Homo sapiens: one gene and its partner. The protein of the gene in region 1 interacts with the protein of each later gene in a pairwise test. Each region holds a gene or a part of one and is shown in the gene's direction. Other genes may lie near its edges.

Region 1 (3,652 bases):
TTCAGGCACAGTGGCTCATGCCTGTAATCCCAGCACTTTGGGAGGCTGAGGCAAGAGGATCACCTGAGCCCACAAGTTCAAGACCAGTAAGACCCCATCTCTCCTCCTCCAAAAAAATTAGTTGGGCATGGTGGACGGTGGCATGTGCCTGTAGTTCCAGCTACTCAGGAGGCTGAGGCAGGAGGATCACTTGACACCAGGAGTTCGAGGCTGCAGTTAACCATGATTATGCCATTGCCCTGTAGCCTGGGTGATCGAGCGAGACTCTGTTTCAAAAAACATAAATGTATTTTTAAATGAATAATTAAGCTGCCTCTTCCCTTCACCCCAGCCCCCTTTCCCAGTGATGACCATTACCTTATGTTTTTATTTCCTCTCAGAAAATGTTTGAGTCATAGATCCGCATATTAATAATAAATTTTAAGACCGGCATGATGGCTCACGCCTGTAATCCCAGCACTTTGGAAGGCCAAGGTGGAGAGATGGCCTGAGCTCAGGAATTTGAGACCAGCCTGGGCAACATGGTGAAACCCCTTCTCTACTAAAACATTAAAAATTAGCCAGGCATGGTGGCGGGTGGCTGTAGTCCCAGCTACCTGGGAGGCTGAGGCACAAGAATTGCTTGAACCTATGAGGCGGAAGTTGCAGTGAGCCAAGATCCCGCCACTGCACTCTAGCCTGGGTGACAGGCGAGACTCCATCTCAAAAAATAAAAATTAGGCCAGGCGCAGTGGATCACCAGGTCAGGAGTTCAAGGCCAGCCTGACCAATATCGTGAAACCCTGTCTCTACTAAAAGTACAAAAATTAGCTTGGTGTGGTGGTGCGTGCCTGTAGTCCCAGCTACTCGGGAGGCTGAGGCAGAAGAATTGCTTGAACCTGGGAGACAGAGGTTGCAGTGAACCGAGATTGTGCCACTGCACTCCAGCCTGGGCAACAGAGCGAGACTCCATCTCAAAAGAAATTTAAAAATAAAATTAAATTAAATTAAAATTAAAAAAAAAAACAATAATAATCAATTTTAAAATTTACCCAAATGTTGTGATGATGTTTTTAGAATCCCTATGTTTTAGAGATATATACTAATATAAAATACTAATCTATGTCATAGTATAACATATATAATACAGTATAACACATACTGATGGAAACAATATTGTGTATGGTATTTTCTCCAAAATAATTGGGATTAGAAGGATAAAAAAAGAAACAAAATTGCCCATAAGCTGCTGATTGTTAAAGCTGCATTATGGGTACGTGCGGGTTCATTATTCTATTCTCTAATTTTGTATGTTTAAAATTTGCCACAATAAATAGTTAAAACCAGGAAAAAGTTACTCCAATTAGATTGTTTTATGAATGCTTTGCTTTTTTTCACGTAAGAACGTATTTTGTAGATCAGTCCATTTTTCTACGTCAGTCTTTTTAAGTATTATGTATACTATTCCACTATATACAAGTTCCACGATTTATTTAGCAAGTTCCCTGCTGATGAGTATTTAGGTATTTCTGTCCATAGCCCCTTGGCTTATTGAGTGCTGGTGTCAGTAGGGGCCTGTGGAGAGGGCAAAGTTTGTGCACTCCAGTCTACCTACTGGGACTCTTGAAATGTACACGTTAACTCCCTCTTTCCAGGAAGACTTTCAGGGGCCCCTCTGCTGTGACACTTACCACTCATTTGCTCAGTGTCCTGACATTACTTGCTGTTGGGTTTCCACAGAACATCTTACAGTGCTTGGCCTGTGATGAGAACTGGATTAGAGTTTTTTTTACATGTTAAGAAGATATGCTTAGTTTTCTCTCTGAAAGTTGGTTTTGACAGGATGATGGTGGCCCTTGATAAGTTGCTGAGGATAGGTATTTCAAATCAAATATGCTCGAAAAAATGTATTAGCTGTGACCGAAAAGCAATGAGATTGTGTTTTTAAAAAATATACTAGAAGCCAAACCTATGCCAGCCTTCAAAATGTTCACTTGGGATCTCTGCACCTGCTTCAGCATGTTGCACTGTCTCAATATTAATAGTCATAATTTTGGGAGTCCTCTTTTGGAATTGCCTCAGAGTCTGCTGTGGATCCCCATGAAATGAAATCACTTTGCTTTAATCACACTTCAGGTTTCAGGTAATACATAGATTGGTGAATGAAATAAAATAAGCAGTTTTTTAGCATTGTATTTCTTTTGATTTCATCCTTCCTGTGAAACATACTGTTAGTGTTTAAAATAATCATGATCAGTCTAAATTAAACATTGTATGTTTCACTTGTAATGATAAAGTTAGTGTTTATTATGTATGTTTTATATAGTATATACATGTGTATGTGTATATATATAAAATAAACACAAATACCAACAGTTGAAAGAAAAGAGAAAACGAGAGCAAATATCTTGTGACATCTTAGTATGCCATGCCATAGTACATGTATAAAAAGGGTATAGTTGTCTGTTGACTTGCTGTGTGTTAAATACATAGTCATCACAGTGGTGTGTGTTTTATGACTAAATCATGATGCAATTATCTTTGGATCGTAGACTGCACTTTGGGGAGCCTAGAAAAATAGACTCATTTCTACCTCAGGGGCATCCTTTCCAAGTTAGAATGCTATTTATACAATAAAATGCAATGGCTAACCTAGAGACTGACTACTTTCTATTTTCCTTTACTACTGAATCGCCCCCTCCAGCTGTTTAGTAACTTCTTTTTGTACAATCAATCATGTATACAATATGTGGCTGCCCTTTTCCTCCTCTGTAGTCTGTCCTTTAAGAAAACAAGAGGCTATTTGAAAAAGGAAAAGCATCTGTGAAATGACTATTTTCATAGGAGTTTAGAAAAGTTAAAGAGTGCCTTGGCCCTGATTCTAAAAGAAAGGTTGTATCTTGCTACTGCAAAGTGAGAACTTTGAATCTAGTTAGGGTTTTTTTCAAAGATACAGTTCCCTCAGTGGCCCCAGGTAGTAAGCATGATGGCTCAGATAAATAAATACCTGTTGGTCACACTGTATATAGTCTCTCTGTTAATCACTTAGTGTTTCATGTTTGCTTTATGAAAACGTTGAAAAGATGCATCATTTTGAACCTTCCTGGGTACAGGTTTCAGTGGTACCCACATGTAATTTTATGTTTAGTTTGGGATTTAATAAAATTGAAGACACAGAGTATGAAACTAGATGGATCTTGTGTAGTAACTGTTTCAAAATCAGATTCATTGCTAAAGTGTACAAAAGCAGAATTATACACAGAGAAAACCAAGTCCCAAGTCTAGATGGGTGTGGCAATGCGCCTCATGATCCATTAACTTATCATTAAGAGCATAGGCTCTAGAGTGAGCTTCCTGAGTTCAAATCCCAGCTCTGCTATATCTAGGCAGTTCTCATAGCCTCTCATCTATAAAATGGGGATAAGAGTGTTTTGGCATAGACCTGCTGTGAAGATTAAGCGAGAGCATCTTCAAAGAGCTTTTAGGAGCAGTATCTGGCATATAGCAAGAGCTCAATGAATATTCATGATTATTATATTAGAGACAGTATCAGTACAGTGGTGTGTTATAAAAGTTTGCTTTTCTCTTAATTATGAATTACCTATATTTTGGACTCTGAGTTACGACTTTCTGGACCTTAAGAGCAAGGGTTGGTTCATCTTCATCTTTGTAT
Region 2 (3,652 bases), on another chromosome or scaffold:
TTCTTTTTTTTTTTTTTGAGACGGAGTCTCACTCTGTTGCCAGGCTGGAGTGCAGTGGCGCGATCTCGGCTCACTGCAACCTCCGCCTCCCGTATTCAAGTGATTCTCCTGCCTCAGCCTCCCAAGTAGCTGGGACTACAGGCACACGCCACCACGCCCAGCTAATTTTTGTATTTTTAATAGAGACGGGGTTTCACCATGTTGGCCAGGATAGTCTCAATTTCTTGACCTTGTGATCTGCCTGCCTCAGCCTCCCAAAGTGCTGGGACTACAGGCGTGAGCCACTGTGCCCGGCCACCAAATTTCTTTATCCATTCATCTGTTGATGAACATGTAGGTTGCTTCCACCTCTTGGCAGTTGTGAATAATGCTGCAATGAACATGAGTGTGCAAATACCTCCTGGAGAGTGTATTTTCTTTTTCTTTTTCTTTTTTGAGACGGAGTCTCACTCTGTCACCCAGGCTAGAGTGCAGTGGCGCGATCTCAGCTCACTGCAAGCTCCGCCTCCCGGGTTCATGCCATTCTCCTACCTCAGCCTCCCGAGTAGCTGGGACTACAGGCGCCCACCACCACGTCTGGCTAATTTTTTGTATTTTTAGTAGAGACGGGGTTTCACTGTGTTAGCCAGGATGGTCTCAATCTCCTGACCTCGTGATCCACTGGCCTCAGCCTCCCAAAGCACTGGGATTACAGGTGTGAGTCACTGCACCCGGCTGGAGAGTGTATTTTCAATTCTTTTGAGTGTATACCTAGAAGGGAAATTGCTATATTATGTAGTAATTATATTTTTAATTTTCCAAAAAAATTATTTATTATTAGAATAAAATATAGAGACAGGGGTCTCGCTATGTTGGCCAGATTGGTCTTGAACTCTTGGCCTCAAACAATCCTCCTGCCTCGGCCTTCCAAAGTGCTAGGATTACAGGTGTGAACCACTACACCTGACCATATTTTTAATTTTTCCTTTTTCTTTTTTTTTGAGACAAGAGTCTTGCTGTTGCTCTGGCTAGAGCACAATGGCGTGATCACGGCTCACTGCAATCTCTGCCTCCCAGGTTCAAGTGATTCTCTTGCCTCAGTCTCCCAAGTAGCTGGGATTACAGGCGTGTGCCACCACACCTGGCTAATTTTTGCATTTTTAGTAGACAGGGGTTTTACCATGTTGGCCAGGCTGGTCTCGAACTCCTGACCTCAGGTGATCCGCCCGCCTTGGCCTCCCAAAGTGCTGGGATTACAGGCATGAGCCCCTAATCTCCCCTTCTTATAAGCATATCAGGCAGATTGGATTGGGACCCACCCTAACAGCCTCATTTTAACTTAATCCCTTCTTTAAAGGCCCTATGTCCAAATACAGACACACTCTAAGGTACTGGGGTTAGGGCTTCAACATAGGAATTGGGGAGGGAAGCACAATTCTGCCCTTATAGGGACTGTACAGGACTGTACGGGGACAGGAACAAGGGACAAGGTTCAAACTGTGGCACAGACCCTTCAGTTGAAAACCCCTTTAGTGAAAGCAGCACCCAGATGTGTGCCTGACCCCAGAGCTTTCCTAGCTCAGGGTCCTGTCGGCTGGTAGAGCTTTTCCACTGAGACAGGAAGTTGTTTCTAGCCACAAGCAGATCCCTGATTTCCTATCTTACACCAACAAGTACAGACATAAAAAGTGGAGGCAGTTGGCCGGGTGCGGTGGCTCACGCCTGTAATCCCAGCACTTTGGGAGGCCGAGGTGGGCGGATCATGAGCTCAAGAAATCAAAACCATCCTGGCCAAAATGGTGAAATCCCATTTCTACTAAAAATACAAAAATTAGCTGGGCGTGGTGGCATGCGCCTACAGTCCCAGCTACTCAGGAGGCTGAGGCAGGAGAATCGCTTGAACCTGGGAAGTGGAGGTTGCAGTGAGCTGGATCACACCATTGCACTCCAGCCTGGGTGACAGAGCCAGACTCTGTCTCAAAAAAAAAAAAAAAAAGTGGAGGCAGTTTTAGGAGTGAATCTCTAAAGAAGGGAGCTGTTTGACAGAGGAAAGGAGAAAAGAGGCATGGGCTGGATGCGGTGGCTCACGCCTGTAATCCCAGCTATTTGGGAGGCCAAGGTGGGTGGATCACTTGAGGTCAGGAGTTTGAGACCAGCCTGACCAACATGATGAAACCCTGTCTCTACTAAAAATACAAAAATTAGCTGGGCGTGTTGGCTCACACCTGTAGTCCCAGCTAATCAGGAGGCTGAGGCAGGAAAATCGCTTGAACCAGGGAGGTAGAGGTTGCTGTGAGCCAAGATCGTGCCACTGCACTCCAGCTGGGGAGACAGAGTGAGATTCCGTCTCAAAAAAAAAAAAAAAAGGCAATGGTAGGCTGGGCACGGTGGCTCACACCTGTAATCCCAGCACTTTGGGAGGCTGAGGCTGGTGAATCACGATGTCAGAAGATCGAGACCATCCTGGCTAACACGGTGAAATGCCATCTCTACTAAAAATATAAAAAAATTAGCCAAGCGTGGTGGCAGGCGCCAGTAGTCCCAGCTACTTGGGAGGCTGAGGCAGGAAAATGGCGTGAACCTGGGAGGCACAGCTTGCAGTGAGCCGAGATCACACCACTGCACTCCAGCCTGGGCGACAGAGTGAGACTCCGTCTCAAAAAAAAAAAAAAAAAAAAAAAAGCAATAGTAGAGATGAGAATGAAATAAATGGACAACCCCAATAAGTGTCACCTGGGTCGCCAGAGTGATGCCAAGTCCCATACAAGTGACCTCATGCCCATGCTCACCTTCTTGCTGGGCCACGGTACAGTAATAGGAGGAAGGGTGGTCAGAGACTAAGGTCAAGCGAATTAACAAGGTAGCCCTGGTTCAGGTCCCTGATCCACAACTTCCTGGCTGTGTGGACGTGGGTGAGTCCTAACCCTCCCTGAGTCTCTTCTGAGAAATGAGGGTAACAGTACCTACTTCATAAGGTGGGTAGCTGTGAGACTAAATGATATCAGAGATGTAGAGTCCACAGCCAACACTTGGTAACCCCTGGCTCCAGTTTTCCCAAACCCACATATGAGCACCCCTCTCTCTTTAAAGTCCTCCCCTGATGCTGGCTGGCTGCATCAGGTTTCCCACGTTCAAAAACAGGCCAAAGTGTCCTGAGCTCTGCTGAAGTCTTTGCCCCCTGCTGTCAGCCGGGCCTGCCTGACTCTGACGATGCTACTGGCTTAGGGTTGTGGCAGTGCTGGGTGGGGTGTGGTTTGAGGGGTGCACCGCTGCAGCAGCTCCTCTTGTCCCGAGTCCATGTCCAGAACCCCTAGTGAGGAAGAAGTTTTATGGTCCAGAGTGGCCAGCGTGGGAGGGGAGACAGCAACTCCACACTCAGCCAGTATCCCTCTGGGCATCCCCGGCCTCCTGATTAGAGCTCCTGACCTCCTCTTCTGACAAGCAAAGAAAGCTCAGAGCCCAAAGCAGGACCCAGGCCTCGGCCACCATCTGAACTCAGAGGCTCCAGCACAAATCCCACGCCTGGGCCTGCTCAGGCCCCTGATCAGGTATAGTCGGAAACTCTGGAGAAAGTCCGTTTCTGCTGAGGCAGCAGGATCCTGACCAACATCGAAGAGGGAAAGATCCAATGAGCCCGTGAGCTGTAAGAAGGTCAGCCCAGGGGTCACCTCAG

The links. Proteins that work in one complex are often made in the same cells at the same time.
Region 2: the proteins of APBB2 (region 1) and MEOX1 interact in binary tests that used the Homo sapiens proteins (3 or more experiments, as listed by UniProt).

The regions. Positions count from the first base shown.
Region 1 is NC_000004.12:41,008,502-41,012,153, reverse strand, and holds part of APBB2 (amyloid beta precursor protein binding family B member 2), read left to right. Parts: intron 1-3,652. UniProt on the Homo sapiens protein: Plays a role in the maintenance of lens transparency, and may also play a role in muscle cell strength. Involved in hippocampal neurite branching and neuromuscular junction formation, as a result plays a role in spatial memory functioning.
Region 2 is NC_000017.11:43,651,835-43,655,486, reverse strand, and holds part of MEOX1 (homeobox protein MOX-1), read left to right. Parts: intron 1-3,652. UniProt on the Homo sapiens protein: Mesodermal transcription factor that plays a key role in somitogenesis and is specifically required for sclerotome development. Required for maintenance of the sclerotome polarity and formation of the cranio-cervical joints.